Linked DNA regions of Homo sapiens: region 1 is linked to region 2. The links come from fine-mapping of genetic effects on gene expression. A gene starts in region 2. The other region holds a variant in brackets. All regions are shown on one strand. Distances are from middle to middle.

Region 1 (8,310 bases), 49 kb after region 2:
AGGTTGCCTGGCGAGCATCAGGCAAGGGCGATTTGGCAGCTCTGGAGGGCTGGTGGCTCGGGGCTGTGGGCGAGTCCACAGGGGTGGGTGGGGCCTCCTGGGCTTCTGCTCTCCCAGACTTTGTGAAGGTTCAGCTGCTCTCAGGCACACCTGTCACCAGATGTACACGTCACCCATGGTGGGGGTCCAGAGGGCCCAAGGGCTTTATAAAGGGGTGAATGGAGGGAGGTGTCTGTGGCTGGAGCCCCGGACTCTGCCCAGTGATATAACAGACAGGAAGCTGAGCACACTGAGTCCCAGCCTAGTGCAGGCATTGGCACTGACCCTGTGCTCAGGGCTGACAGACACCATCACATTTAACTCTTACCACGGCTCCAGGTGAGAGCCGTGGAATAAAGGCAGCTGCTTTATTCCACAGGCTGCGTGACTAAGGCACAGCTGGTGCCGTCACTAGAGAGGCAGTGGCCCCGGGCTGCTGGGCTAGCAAGGGCAGAGCCGGCATTGGAACCCAAGCCCTCTTGTCCTGCGGTGTCTCCTGGCCTCTGGAGAGGATGGCCCATCTGCCCTGTACAGATCCCTCCCTGCTCTTCATCTGTTGGAACCCAACTCCTCCCCACTGCTGGTGCTGCTTTCCAGGTCACCAGGAACAACCCGTGGACTCCTGGCTTGGCTTTTACCATCTTGGTTGTTCTTGGCAGCGTTCAGCACTGTTGCCCAGGAAAAGAACTGAGGCTGTTGACTTGGAAAATAGGAGATGGGGAAGTAACTGCCTGCGGATAGAACCAGCCTGTGCAGTCAGACCTAGACCATGCCCTGCTCCTGTGCAGTGCCCCCCTAGGGTTGGTGGCACATTGATGTTAGCTCGTTTGTGGGGTTGTGGCCTTTGTGCCTTCAGTCTGGGCAAGTTCAACTGCATGCACCGGACAAGAGAGGAAAATAATTAAAACACTGTGGGCAGTTCTGTCAGCCGCTCTTCTCTTGAGGGTCAGCCTAGGCAGGGAGCTGGCTCTGCTGTCCCCTCTGCCACTCTCACCTTCCATGGGCCTTTGGGAGCAGGAGCCCTGTGCCCTATGCAGTGGGAGTCTAAGGCATAATGATGCATCTCTTTCAAGCAGCGTGGCCCTGTGTGTAGAGCAGGTGAATTACATGTGGCTCAGCCACAGAAATGGCAGTCCAGAAGCACTGTGGGAAAGCTGGCTGTGCTCAACTTCCTGGGTTCTGAGGGTAATTCTCACTCTGCGTAGTCCTTCCTTATCCCCGGTAATAGACCCATGGGGAGCATAGGTCCTCTCTAAATGGAGCAGGCCAGGAGCTCCCTGACACCCAGATGCTCCGACCCCACCCCCTACCACCCACGGCCTCCCGCCTCAGGAAGTCTCTAAGTCGTGGATAGCTTTATGGGTCCTTAATATCTGGCAGGCAGAATGAATGGGCAGAGAATCCAAAATGGAAAAACAAAAAGTTTTAACCTTTGCTCATTCATTTATAGCTCAAAATAGAGATCTTTCCAACTTTGTAATCCAGTGGGAGAGGTGGGATGCAGTTTATAGATACTTGATTTCTGTGCCAAGTTCACTGGCCACACAACTCATATGTAAACTGTGGCATAGATGTAGCATTTAGAAGCTTTTTATTACTATTATTATCTTTTGAGAAAATATGAGCAAGGAAGAGAAAACCCACACTTCTTACAGTTCCTGGATCTGAATCTGTTTGCTTTTCTGTGTTTACAGAAATTATGATTTTAAACCAAGAAGAAAAAATGGAGATTCCAATACCAGGAAAGAGCAAAACTCTGACCTCTGACTCCAGCTCGTCCTGCATCTCAGCAGCTGTCCCCGTGCCTCCCTGCCCCTCCTCGGAAACCTCCGAGTCACTGCTCAGCAAGGACCCCGTGGAAAGCCCGGCCAAAAAGCAACCCAAAAATAGAGTCAAATTGGCAGCCAACTTTTCCTTAGCACCTATAACCAAGCTTTAACTCCCATTTGGAATATAGAATTAGGATGGGAAAACACTGTCTGATTCTGCACACAAAAGTGGGTTTCAAAAATACATCCTTTTCTGTGTCATGAAAACCCCCCGAAGCCATTGACTTCATCTTACCTGTGTTCTATCATGTTTTTCTTTTCCATTGAACACAGCTTTGAGCTGAAGTCTTTCTTTTCTTCTTCCTTTTTCTTTCTTTTTTCAATTATTTGAAGAACTTGTGGCATTTGTTAAAGAATCCTTAATATATTTTACCAAATTTTTAGTAACTATTATGAAATACAATGGTGTTCCAAAAGAAGAAAGCACTAAAAACTCAACTAGCAGGAAGCGGTTTTGCTTCCATTGAGCCACGTCGGTGGTGTCATCCTACATGTAGCATAATAGAGTCTCTCAGCCTTTGCTTACTGGTGTTTCCGACAGTATTAACCCAGTGCGTGGCATGTCTTTGAAGCAAAGCCTGTCCCGCTAGCCTGTGTGTTCACACACCAAAGGAGAAGGGTAGGCGAGGGGTTCGGAGTGTATTTTCAGGTTGGAATGTGAAGGTTCCTGGCTTCCATGTGACTTGTAAGTGTGCCTTGTTTTTTATTTAAACTATGTCTGTAGTTGACAAAAGTGGCTTCATCACAAATTTTTTTAAACGTTTCTACTTTGGGGTTCCATTTAGGAGCTTTCTAGAAAGTTGAGGATGTTTGAAGCTTCCCTTCTGTGTTCCAGTTTGATATGGGTTAGGTTAAGGAAAAGGAGATGGTCTCGATGTCATGGATTTAAAGTCAGCATTTGGATTACAACACACATTATTGTGTGTCGAGAGGCAGCATTGGAAAGAGCCTGATTTTCTAAAATATGCATCAAGTGCATAAATTACAAATCAGAGCTGAGTGGGGAGGTGCTTCAGCAGCAGCGGGATCAATACGATTTCCACTGGGAAGAGACAGGAATTCTACCTACACATAGGAAGGCCAAGGTTGATCCACTTAACCTTGTTATTGTAATTTTAAAGCTGGTATCGGTAGCTGGGAAGCTTTATGTGTGTGTATGTCAGCTCAGCATCTTTTAATCGTGTCTGATTTTACTCTCGTTACTTCTCGCTGTTGGAAGCATCTCTGGGTTTCTTGTGGCGTCTGGTGTGGAATGGCCTTCCTCTCTAGGTGCCTGAGGTGTCCGCTGACGGGTGGCCTCTCACCCCCCTCTAGAGAAACCTGACATTTACAATGGATTGTATTTGTCCGGCAAAAAAGGCGGATTCATTCATAGAGCAGAAAGAACCTGTTGGCGTAAGGTCTTCCACTAGTTAGATGGTTTCTTTTGGGGAAATGTTTATATTTGGTAACTTCTAGAAAGCCAGAAAATGGACTCTGATTTCATAGCATTTTGATAAAATGCCACAAAATAAGGGCTATAGAGAGATTTTTACAAGTCAGATTTTTTGTTCCCCAAATCTTTTAAATGAAGCCAGTGACTCCCAGTTCTCAACACATGGCCCCAGTCAAGACAGAACACCATGGAAAAAACCCTGTAAGTATTATGGCACTCTCCGAATCCTCCTGAAGGCATTTCCTCTACAGACATAGTGTTACAGGAAGTGAAATGCAAATGTGCAATTTTTTTTAAAGGAGCTTTTAAACAAAGTAATAATAATTGGTGTTGAGAACATCAGTTGCCTTATTCTAAGATTTCATAAGGCTGAGTTTGCACGCTTGGACTTCAGTTCTGCTAGCATGTAAAGAGTGGTGGACTTTAAAACCGTAAGAGGTATCATTACAAGTCACCTGGAACAGACTCAAAGAACAGGTTCTTTGGGCAACAGACAAAGAAGAATCAAGTTCTGTGCTGTCCCGTGAGTGTGTCTGAGTACCATTCACTGGAGTTGCTGCTTAGGTCTGGGACGTGTGTGTGACTCTTAACAATTGCTGTCTGAAAATGAGAGAGAAGACTTCGGAAGCACATTGTGTTCATAATGTACTCCACAATGGCCAGTCCAATTGCTATCTATTTTTTTATCCAGAGGCTTAATTAAATGATGTGGTAAAATGATGTTTGAGCATTAAGACAATGTAATTCTTTATTTCTGGGTGGAAAGATATACCGGATTAAATTTATCTGTTTAAAAAAATGACAAAAGTTATCACCAAAACCCCCTTTCCCATCTTGCACTGTTTGTTTTGGATTGGGTTTGGGGGAAAGAGATGTTTTTCTTAGTTGTCTACTTTGTTTGAACACTTTTGTTGTGGTTCAAGTGCTGTTTTGTGTGTTGGGACCAAACAGTTGTCAATAAACTTTACAAGCGAGCATCTATTTTGAGTTTCCCAAGTGAGTGGTTTTGTCTGTCTGTCTGTCTGTGGGGAGGAATTACAAACCAATACAGTTCTGCCATCTTTCATTTTGGGTCTCCTCAACTTCTCTCCCCTTCTGGAAATAGAATTGTGAGGTGGAGAGTAAATCCGTCTACATCTTAGAGGCCTTTTAAACTCAGCACACGCCGAAGCAGGTGGCTGGATGGTGGGCCCTTCGTCGTCAGGATCCTCCAAGTTTTCCAGCCTTTGTTCCAGCTTATAATTACATGTGGGAAAATACAGTAACCACAAAAACCTTCCAGTTAGAAAACTCTATTAATTCCTAGGCTCTCTCTTCTTGTGAAAGAAATCCAGCGTGCCCGCTGTCTCGTTTTTGGTCACTGCTAAGCATGCTTTTTGAATAAGCCAATTTGGAAAAGAGTTATTCCACAGATACAGTTGTGAAGCCCTCCCATCCCCTGAGACCGCCATTACCCCGTCACCCCTGCCACCAGCACCCTCTGGCAAGAATTTAAAAGGACCCAGAAGAGACTTGAGTAAATTGCTTCTTGATGACATTTTTTTCAAGTTCAGCAATGTTAAAAGCTGCTAAAGACCTTTCCAAACATTTCACGATGGCAAATTTGTGCAGAAAAAGTTGAGTAGCCATCGTGCCCCTTTTGAGCGGCGTCAGGAGGTCTTGTTAGGTGTGGACTGGGGCTGGAACGGTGGCTTTGCATTTATCTTTGTTT[GTTTC/C]CCACCTAGGAAGGTGATTCAGAGGTGGGGGCCTAGAAGACAGCTGTCTGGGGGAGAGCAGACCTGTCCGTAGCAGAGGGGGCTGCGCTGATTGAAGAAGATCTGTTCCCTCTCTGTTCCCTTTGCCAGAAGGAGCGTTGCGCTTTGGGATTCACCTTCACTTTCTAGCTGCTTCCATGGGCAGAGGGTGAGTCATGGCGCAGAAGCCCTCAGCGGCCTCCACCCACCTGCTGTCCCCATTGCTGGGGGGGGGGGCGGTGGGCGGCAAAACTTCCTCAATTCTCCTAGTGTCCCTGGCTGGGCCTTAAACTGACAAAGACATTAATAGGAAAAAAGCAAACAAATTTTACTTCATACCAGTTTTGCGAGAGTCTTCATAAGGAAATGAAGACCCCAGAGAAATGGCTAAGCCTGAGTGGTTTTTTGTTTTGTTTTTTGGTTTTTTGAGACAGTCTCACTCTGTCACCCAGGCTGGAGTGCAGTGGCATAATCTCAGCTCACTGCAACCTCCACCTCCCAGGTTCAAGCGATTGTCCTGTCTCAGCCTCCCGAGTAGCTGGGATTACATATGTGCACCATCACACTGGCAAATTTTTGTATTTTTAGTAGAGATGAGGTTTCACCATGTTGGCCAGGCTAGTTTTGAACTCCTGAGCTCAAGTGATCCTCTGGGCTCAGCCTCCCAAAGTGCTGGAATTACAGGCATGAGCCACCACGCCTGGCTGAGAACGCTTTTTTTTGGGGGGGGGGGGGGCGGGGGGAAAAGGGCTAGAGAGCTTAGAAGGTGCCAAGCCAGAGCACCAAGAGCCAGAACTTTCCTTAGCAAGATGAAGAGAAGAATACACACGTTCCGGGAAGGAACGCCTTGGAAGTGGGGGAGCTGAGGTGCAGAGGAAGAAGGCATTGCAGGGTGGAAGGGGCCGTTCTTAGAGGGAAATCCTGCTCAGTGGCTGGGCTGCTCAGCTCCTCACTCCGCACGAGGTGGTGAACCAACCAGGAGCATCCGCAGGGGAGCAGTACCAGGGCCAGCAGGGAACATATTGGGCCTGCTTGGCACCGTCTCTTCCATCCGCCTCAGGCAGCTCATGTGATGGCCTCCAAAGGCTTCCCAGGTGCAGGGCCTGGGCATGAGGGAACCCCCGCTCCTACCACCCACCTGCCCCCACTGCAGTTTCTGGTATCAGCAAGTGCAGACAAATCCACACTGGGGCTGCAGGGTCGCCGCCCTTGGTATTTCAGCAGCCAGAGTCTGATGCATCAAGGGCAGGTGTGGCAAGAATCAGGAAATACATTTTTTTTTTTTTTGAGACAGAGTCTCACTCTATCGCCCAGACTGGGGTGCAGTGGCACGATCTCGGCTCACTGCAACCTCCTACCGGGTTCAAGCGATTCTCATGCCTCAGCCTCCGAACAGCTGGGATTACAGATGCTGCCACCACACCTGGCTAATTTTTTTTGAGACGGGGTTTTGCCATGTTGCTCTGGCTCGTCTCAAACTCCTGGCCTCAAGTGGTTCACTTGCCTCGGCCTCCCAAAGTGCGGGGATTACAGGCGTAATATAATATAGATATTATATATAGATATAGATATAGATGTCTCTATAATATCTATATATAAATAGATATATCTATTATATATAATAGAGATATATATCTATATATAATATATAGATATCTATATATTATATATAGATATATATCTATATATTATGTATAGATATAATATAGTCACACAGTCAACCATGCCCGGAACCCCCAAGCCCCCACTTTTTTTTTCCGAGATGGAGTCTCACTCTGTTGCCCAGGCTGGAGTGCAATGGTGCGATCTCGGCTCTTTGCAACCTCCGCCTCCTGGTTTCAACCGATTCTCCTGCCTTAGCCTTCCGGGTAGCTGGGATTACAAGCATGTGCCACCACACTTGCTAATTTTTGTATTTTTAGTAGACATGGGGTTTCACCCTGTTTTTTAAATTCTCTAAAAGGAAGAGGACACTTTTTTTGTTGTTGTTGTTGTTGTGTTGTGTTGTGTGTGTGTGTGTGTGTGTGTGTGTGTGTGTGTTTTGAGACAAAGTCTTGCTGTGTCTCCAGACTGGAGTGCAGTGGCGCAATCTCGGCTCACTGCAACCTCTGCCTCCCAGGTTCAAGCGATTCTCCTGCCTCAGCCTCCCAAGTAGCTGGGACCACAGGCGCCCACCACCATGCCCAGGTAATTTTTTTGTATTTTTAGTACAGATGGGTTTTCACCATGTTAGCCAGGATGGTCTCAATCTCCTGATCTCGTGATTTGCCCGCCTCGGCCTCCCAAAGTGCTGGGATTACAGGCGTGAGCCACCGTGTCCAGCCCTGTTTGCTTTTAAATGGGAGAGACCTGTTTAAATCCCTCCGATGGGAAGAGAAAGAACAATTGGGGCTACAGTGGTGGGGAGGGAGGGAGATGAATGATGACTCTGTCACTAACAACCCCTGGGACCGTGGGCAGTGGATTTACTGCCACTTCCTCATCTGTAAAGTGAGAAGTGATAACAGGATCTGACTCACTGTTTCAAGTGTTTATTCTGCCTCCGCTTGCAACCTCTTGCAACCTCCGCTTGAAAAGGGTAATGGATTTACTGCTACTTCCTCATCTGTAAAGTGAGAAGTAATAACAGGATCTGACTCATCAGGCTGATGTGAGGAGGGAACCAGCCAGTGTGAGCACATTGCTCAAGGCATAGAGATAAGCTACAATAAATGTTATTCCCATTATCAACCTCCTCCATGGCTTCTAAAAGGAGCAAGTCTAGGTGTGCAGGACCCCACAGTCTGCAAGGTTTCCCAGCTTGGAAGGTGGCCCTGGTAATCTGGAAGCGTCTGTGACAGCTTAAATAAATTGGATTTTTTAATGTTTTCTTTTTTTAAAAAAATCAGTAGGAATTACAGGAACATACAGTAGGTGTACCCAGAGCTTAGCGGAAGTACCAGAGGCAGGATTTTGATGAGGGTTTGATCTCCTCTGGTTCGTTGGATCTGTGAGTGACTGCTGTATAACTGGCCTGAGGTCAGACCTCGCTGACCCCCCCACTCCCCTCTCCCCTTTTTTTTTGAGATGGAGTCTCGCTCTGTCGCCCAGGCTGGAGTGCAGTGGCACAATCTCTGCTCACCGCAAGCTCTGCTCACTGCAAGCTCCGCCTCCCGGGTTCACGCCATTTTCCTGCCTCAGCCTCCTGAGTAGCTGGGACTACAGGCGTCCACCACCACGCCCGGCTAATTTTTTGTATTTGTAGTAGAGATGGGGTTTCACCGTGTTAGCCAGG
Region 2 (8,334 bases):
AGGATCTCCCACCCCATCTTGCCTTCCTGCTATCCTACAACAGCCTTTCTCAAATTCTACTTTGAACTCCTTGCTAATTCCTAAAAACTGCTTAGAGGCACAAAGGGGAACCCCACCACCTATCAACAGGTTTAAGGAAAGTACCAAATGTCTTTCAGGAAACTTCCCAAACATTAATGAATCATTTACATGCTGCTTCACACTTTACTACGTCTGATGCCTTCCCCCTTGGAATTTTATTTTATTTCGAGACAGAGTTTCACTCTGTTGCCCAGGCTAGAGTGCAGTGCTGCAATCTCGGCTCACTGCAACCTCCACCTCCCGGGTTCAAGCGATTCTCCTGCCTCAGCCTTTCGACTAGCTGGGATTACAGGTGTTCACCACCATGCCCACCTAATTTTTCTATTTTAGTAGAGGCAGGGTTTCACCATGTTGGCCAGGCTGGTTTTGAACTCCTGACCTCAAGTGCTCCACCCGCCTCAGCCTCCAAAAGTGCTGGGATTACAGGCATGAGCCACCACACCAAGCCTCCCCTTAGGAATTTTATTACTTATTTACTTATTCATTAAGATGGAATCTCACTCTGTCGCCCAGGCTAGAGTGCAGTGGTGCGATCTCGGCTCATTGTAACCTCCACCTTCCAGTTCAAGCGATTCTCCTGCCTCAGCCTACCAAGTAGCTGGTATTAACCCCCCTTGGATTTTTTTTTTCTTTTTTTTGACGGAGTCTCGTTCTGTTGCCCAGGCTGGAGTGCAGTGGCACGATCTCGGCTCACCGCAACCTCTTCCTCCTGGGTTCAAGCGATTCTCCTGCCTCAGATTCCTGAGTAGCTGGGATTTCAGGTGTGCACCACCACGTCCAGCTAATTTTGTAGTTTTAGTAGACACAGGGTTTCACCATGTTGGTTTGGCCAGGCTGGTCTCGAACTCCTGACCTCAAGTGATCCACCTGCCTCGGCCTCCCAAAGTGCTGGGATTACAGGCGTGAGCCACTGCGCCTGGCCCCCCTCGGAATTTTATTTGGCCCTAACCACTCTGTGACGTTTCTGGACAGGAACTAATCACCTCAGCTTACAGAGAAACCGAAGCACAAACTGATGAGGTACTGGTGTTGCCTAAATGGCTTTGATCAAGGTATTTAAACTAGTTGGTTCTCAATTTCCCAAATTTTCCATAAAGAAAAAAGAGAGGGCATTGAAATAATAATCCTTAAAGTCCTATTTGGGAACAACATTTAGGGAAATAGGTTTGTCATTGGGTAAAACCTTAAAAACATTTAAAATGTTTTTCTTGTTCTTTTTAAATTCAATTTGTTTTCCTTGTAGCTTTGGACTATGGCTGAGCAGATAACTCAATTTAACTTCCTTAGGTCCTTCCATGATCATTTATTAATTCAAACCACTGAACCTAATACAGGTAGAAGATTGGTTTCTGGGGAGAAACTCCTTTAATAACAGCTTGGTTAGTTGAAAAGCTGAATTGCATGTAAAGTAGCTACTTAAATAGCACACAAAAAAGTCTTTCGGTTTTCATACATGTGAAGACTATAATTTGGACAAGGGAAAAACTGAAAGTTACTTGTACTCTCTAAAGTTTTCCCAGCAAAGAAACAGGAATACAATTAATAGAGGATACATACTTAAAATATATCTTAAGAGAAAATTTATGTATTTTGATTCATAATTGTCTCCTAAGGCCTGGTATACTTTGCTTAGGCTCCTAGTCTTTAGAAAGCAGCAATAAAATTACATTTCTTTTAAAAGTATTTGTAATTCAGACTTTTATTAGCCTTCCACTTAATACGACTGTTTTGTTTTTAAAAATTTTTTTAATAGAGACAAGTGTCACACCATGTTGCTCAGGCTGGTTTTAAACACCAAGCCTCAAGGGGTCCTCCTGTCTCAGCCTCCCAAAGTGCTGGGATTACGACATGAGTCACCATGCCCCGCCCATTTTCAATCACTACATTTACTTGTTGTGACTAGTTACAGCTTTGGACTTGAAAGAATGCCAAGCTAAGTCAAACAAAATGTGTCTGCTTGGTAAAAAGGAATCTAAAAGAAAAATATACATATAAAGAAAATGTGGTCAAGCTCGTTGGCTCAGCCCTGTAATCCTAAAGAGGCCGAGGCGGGAGGATCACTTGAGGCTAGGAGTTCGAGACCAGCCTGGCCAACATGGCAATATCCCGTCTCTACTAAAAACACAAAAATTAGCCAGGCATGGTGGTGGGCGCCTGTAATCCTAGCTACTCAGGAGGCTGAGGCATGAGAATCGGTTGAACCCGGGAGGTGGAGGCTGCAGTGAGCCAAGATCCTGCCACTGCACTCCAGCCTGGGCAATGAAGCAAGACTTTGTCTCAAAAAAAAAAAAAAAAAAAGTAAAAAGGAAATGTGTCTGCATTCTTTGATGTTTTCTGGCTAAAAACTATTTTTTAAAAAAAGCAATTAGAAACCTACAATTACCTTGTTTCTTAAGATTTTTAGTTAATATGGCTTGTGTTGAAACATACTCAACTGAAATAAAATGGGGAAAAAACACCTCTGAAGAGTAGCGTATTTGTTTGGTACTTTGAAAAAAGCCAAAACGCTAGAAACGGGTTTTTCATCTATTCTAATCTCCACTTGGAAAATACTACCTATACACAGACATAATGAAGATTTTTTTCTTTTTCTTTCTTTTCTAAATAGTGATAGGGTTTCACCGTTTCCCAGTCTAGTCTCAAATTTGTAGGCTCAAGAGATCCTCCCTCCGTAGCCTCTCAAAGTATTGGGAATACAGGCCTGAGCCACTGCGCCCAGCCCACAGTCAAGATTTAGTCAGCAGTAATAAATACCTACGCAGGGAGAGGATGTGTGCTTGTCATCTGCCTTCTGGAAAATTAAATACAGGCACAAAGGATTCTTCAGCTACATGTCTGATCCTGCCCTCCACAATACCCGTCTACAGGGATGTTTACAGGGATGTGTTAATCCCCACGTAATGGGGATTGCCTATTGAAATAACCTCCCAGTAAGGATTTTTTTGGGCAAAATATTCTCGTTTGGCAATTTCGACTTACTGATTCTTTTGCAAAGTCAACTTGTTTCTGGGCAAACTTTAAAAATAAACTCCTAAGGTAGCATTTAGCTAGCAGCTAGCACATCCTAAATCGTGTCTAGATTTAACTTACACAATATGTGCTTTGCTTTTTTCCTAATTTGCAACAGAAAATAGTAATCAGCTGGTAGTTTCAGAAATCACCCTTTTGCTGAGTCTTAAATTTTTTTTTATTCCAGGGAAACGTGAAGATTGTGGGGCGCTATTTTTTTTTTTAAAGCAAACCACACAGCATATCTGGCCACCTAAAACACAAAGTGTTTGAAACTAACCGTAAGATTTCCTTTCTGCTCGCCCAACCTGTCACTGGAAACGCAGTATTCATTTGTAACCAGCTTTGGAGCAGGGCTTTTAAAAATAACGTTTTCTTGCTAAAGTCCCCAAAAATCTCTTGATTCTTGGTGGCAATGTCCAGTTGAGTCTTTGCACACACTGTATTTTTGCCAACTGGGTCGCAACTTTGCGAGAACTCCGGGGGACCTCGTAGGAAGCCAGGTTGGCAGTTATTTTTTTCTCCACTTGCCACTAGGTTGCACTAGATTTAGGATGCTGGGGAATATGCGCCATTTAATTTTTAAAAATAAAGTAGGACCATCACGTGACGAGACCCGAGAGAGGAAAAAAAAAAAGCCGAAGGGACAGGGTTTTTCATTGAAATCCCGTTCAAATCGCCTTCCCTCCAAAGCCTGAAAGAGCTGAATTCTATTAAATCCTGGTTGGCAGGTTTTTTCCTCGGGTCCACGTCACGAGCTCATTCTCCGCTTCAAGGTTCCTTTCGACTCCACAACGTGAAGCCAGGGGGAAGGCCTCCTTAAACTGGGGGTTTTCGCCAAAAAAGCCAGGGTCACCCCCCGGGAAAGTCCCTATTTAGGGGTTTATCGGGAGGGGACTGAGCCTGACGAGGCTGCAGGGCCGCGAGGCCCCGCCCCCCCCGGGGTTCCCAGCATGCCCCGCGCGGACAGGACGCGGCGGCGGAGGCGGGGCGAGGAAGGGGCGGGGCGAAGAGGAGAGAAGGGCGTCGGTTTTGCGACAGGGGCGGTGCGGTGCGGAAGCGGAAGTGAAGGGTGCGCTTGGCGGCGGCGGCGGGAGCTGCGGAGTCGGGAATCAAAACAAAGGGCCTGGGGGGGGCGGGGGGAAGGCGGCGGGGCCGGAATGTGAGCGGAGGTGGAGCCGGCGGCAGAGGTGAGTTTGCAGACAGTCCTGCGACCAGACCCCGGCAGGCTCTGCTCCGAGGCCAGCGGGGCGGGACGGAGGACAGTGTCCCCTCTTTCCCCGCCTATTGCTGGTGGGATGGTGGTGGAGAGGGGAGGTTAGCTAACTGGGACGCGCCAGTTGGGCCCCCCACGAAAGAGTTGGCTTGTCTCCCTTTCGGGTCCATTCACTACTGTCACTGTTGGCGCCGCTGTTCCCCTTCGAGGGCATTTGGCTCCCCGCCCGCCCCTGTCTGACCCCTGGTGGGGCCCTCCAGGAGTGAAGTGCACAGCTGGAAGGTTAAGAGAGAAGGAAAGGGGCGGGTGTTTTTGCAACACACTCCCCCCTCCCCGGCCGTTTTGCATTCTCCTCGGCCTTTTAGCAACACATAGGGTGTAGTCTCAGGGTTGACAATGTCTAGGGCTTCAGCCACTCTCACTAGTAGTTGTAACGCGACCTCGTGATACACCTTTTAGAGTTTCTCAAGCACCTTTCCGGTATTACCAAGAGCTGTCCAATTGCATTTGTGTCTTTTGGACTTCTCTGAGCGGTAAATATTCTTCTCTTTTGCATATCGGTGTATTGAAACCTAAACTGTTTTCCTATTTATTAAGCTTTATTCGTTCAACAGTTATTTATTAAAATATGCCAGGCATTGTACTAAGGACAGGAGTTGGAATAGTGGATAAGAAAACATAGTCTCTGCTGTCATGGAGTTTATAGCCTAATGGGGGAGAAAGATAATAAAATAAGCTAAAAAGGCCGTTTTGGACAGAAGAGCTATGGGGGAGAAAACGGTAATGGGATGGGGTGGTGTGGGGTCAAAGACTAGATTGGGTGCTAAGGAAACAACATTTGCTAAATGTTCCCCGTGGATTACCTCATGTAATCCAAACAACGGCCTTGTAAGGTGGTTTCTATTATTATCACACCCATTTTAGAGATGGGATCTGAGGTTCAGAGAGGTTGTGAGTTGTCCAAAGCTGCACCGCAGTCAAATTGGAGACCAAAATGCAGACAGTCGACAGAGCCTATGCTCTCCTCATTGAATTGGTCAAAAGACTTGAAGAGAGTGACAGAAAGGAGACTGTCGCTCAAGTCAAACAGAACCTGCTTTTGGCTACCTAAGTTGCTTCGTGGATGGTATTTGGGAAGTTTTCAGGGTGCAGGCACCTGAAAGTTTTTACTTTTAATCGCTTGTATTGAGCAGTATTGAAGGCACCTTGATGTAGTGGAAAGGGGTGAACAAGCCTAATCTTGTGTCAGGCTCGCTACAAAACTTCATTAAGTTTCTTTTTCTCTCTCTGCAAAAATGTAGCTAATTTCTCCCCTGTCTATTTCACAGGATTATTGCAAAAATTATATAAGAGGATCCCACCGTCTGGGTTTTTTTCATCATTATATTCCTTGTGCCAAGCACAGGCCTGCTGCATAGTAGATACTAAGTAAATATTTGCTGAATGAAGACATAAGTAATGTTAAGTGAAAATACTTTATAAACTAGATTATACTGTGAATGTTAGCTCACTTTCAGGATTTGGCTTTGAAGAAGTTTGAGAGAATGTTTAAGTTATGAACACTGTGAATATCACAGATTCTTACGATTTTGAGAGGAGTTTTTTGGGGGACATAAAACCTGTATCTAATAGGAAAGACAAGAATCGTAATTTACTATCAGTGGTAGCAGTTAAATCCATCTCCAAATTAACCACTCCCAATAGTGTGTAGTAGGTAATGTTTACTTTGTATTTACAGAGTAGGGAGCATTTTGGTTGGCACAAGAGATACAGTGGTGAAAATAGACAGTGGGGTTCATTTATCTAATTTTTTTTTTCTCTGTAATGCAGTGGCGGGGAGAAATTAGCCACATTTTGCATAGGAGGAAACAGAAACTTGAAAACAAAAATTTTTTTAGAGATGGAATCTCACTCTGTTGCCCACGCTGAAGGGCCAGTGGCACAATATAGTTCACTGTAGCCTCAAATTCTTGGGCTCAAGAGATCCTCCTACCTCAGTCTCTCTAGTAGCTGGGACTAGGCGCATGCTGCCACACTATGCTAATTTTTTGAACTTTATTTTATTTTAGAGCTGTGATCTTGCTATATTGCCCAGGCTGACAAAAGAGCCACGTAGTAAATATAGGCTTTGTGGGCCATACAGTCTCTTTGCAGAGACTCTCTTTGCAACTCTGCAATTGGAATGCAAAAGCAGTCATAGGCAGTATTTAAGTGAATGAGTGTGTCTGTGTCCCAATTAAACTTTATTTATGGACACTGACATTTTAATTTCATGTAATTTTGTTTGTTGGTTTTTGAGACAGGGTCTCACTCCGTCGCCCAGGCTGCAGTGCAGTGGTGCAATCACAGCTCACTGCAGCCTTGACTACGCAGTCTTAGGTGATTCTTCCACCATAGCCTCCTGAGTAGATGGGGCTACAGGCATGCACCACCACGCTCAGCTAATTTTTTGTAGCCATGGGGTTTTGCCATGTTGCCCAGGCTGGTTGGGAACTCCTGGGCTCAAGCAATCCACCCACCTTGGCCTCCCAAAGTGCTGGGATTGCAGGCCTGAGCCACGGTGCCTCGCTTGCATTTATTGTTAAGACCTGTAAGAGTGTTGTTGCTCTGGCGTAGATATAACACATCTGCGACTTGAGATTTTTCTATCAGTTAGATTTTTGGTGGTATATCAGATTGCACTTTCATCATTAGTAAACTAAGAAATTGGTTCAATTTGTTCTGTAGCAAATCAAATTCAAAGTCCACAGAGGCCACTTAGTTTGGACTTTTCATGCTCAGATCAAGAAACCAGTGCAAGAAGTTGCTCTTAAGTCAATTTTAAAATCTTACATATAGTTGTCAATGAGGATGTGGTGGTGGCTCTTTTACTCAGATTAGATGCTCTCTTCTGTTAACTTTTGACTTTCCTGAGCAGCATCTTTAGGGAGAGAGAGCCGAAAAGAATTCAGAAAAACTGTAGAAAAAATTGATTCCAGCCAAGTGAGGAGGTGAAGTCTCACTCTGGAATATGCAAGTTTCCAAGATATGGCTACCTCTCTCAAACATGGTTACATGTGGAAAGGAAACAAGACTCATGGAGAGTTCATTTTTTATTTGAAGAGCTATGAAACATGAAGAATGGCAGATTATAGATTTTTTAAGAAATCAGGTTGTTGCAGTTAGATTTTAAGCATAAACAGTCAACCAAGTTTACCAAATTTTATTAACCCGTAATATGCTCTGATATTTTGTGTTTTTTTCTTTCTTTATTTTATTATTATTATTTTGTTTGTTAAGATTTGAATTGTTGGCCGGGCGCAGTGGCTAATGCCTGTAATCCCAGCACTTTGGGAGGCCGAGGAGGGTGGATCACTTGAGGTCAGGAGTTCAAGACCAGCCTGGCCAACTTGGTGAAACCCCATCTCTACTAAAAATATAAAAATTAGCCAGGCATAGTGACAGGCTCCTGTAGTCCCAGCTACTCTGGAGGCTGAGGCAGAAAAATCGCTTGAACCCGGGAGACGGAGGTTGCAGTGAGCTGAGATCGTACCACTGCATGCCAGCCTGGGCGACAGAGCGAGACTTCCTCTTGAAACAAAGATTTGAATTGTTGAGAGCCATAGGACTGTAAATATAGCTGTGGTTTCACATTTTAGTATGTTGTAAAATTTGTACTTATGCAAGGAAATAACACTGAAATCTTACTCATTCTTAACAGGGTGGAAGAATGAAAGAAAAGAAAGATGAAAGGATGTTGAATCACTTTGCATGGCTGTATGATGGAAGGAAACGGAACTGAGAACTCCTGCAGTAGAACACGTGGATGGCTTCAACAAGATAATGATGCTAAGCCATGGCTTTGGAAATTCTCTAATTGCTTTTCTCGTCCTGAGCAGACGCTGCCACATAGTCCCCAAACGGTAACTATATGCAAGACTAAGGATGTAGCAGATTCCTCATCCAAATAGATGAGAGAGGTCCATTTGGTCTGGGATACAGTCTCTCATCCTAGAGTCTGTGCCACATTTTTCTGTAGATCTTGCCTG

Evidence for each region.
Region 1: its variant is fine-mapped to the expression of MARF1 in testis (GTEx, PIP 0.92).

Annotation. Positions count from the first base shown.
Region 1 is chr16:15,590,361-15,598,670 of GRCh38, reverse strand. MARF1 (meiosis regulator and mRNA stability factor 1) reads left to right here. Exons shown (of 27, transcript NM_014647.4): 27 at 1,734-4,284. The coding sequence ends at 1,978. Among named protein-coding and RNA genes, the nearest start is that of MIR6506, 17 kb to the left of the region's middle. RefSeq lists enhancers at 7,305-7,599, 6,946-8,145. The variant GTTTC/C (reference allele first, on the strand shown) is at 5,015.
Region 2 is chr16:15,638,964-15,647,297 of GRCh38, reverse strand. It overlaps MARF1 (meiosis regulator and mRNA stability factor 1), which reads left to right and starts at 4,144. Exons shown (of 27, transcript NM_014647.4): 1 at 4,144-4,280; 2 at 8,007-8,208. The coding sequence starts at 8,065. MIR484 (microRNA 484) reads right to left here and starts at 4,004; the gene lies at 3,926-4,004. It also overlaps a transcript of NDE1 not described here.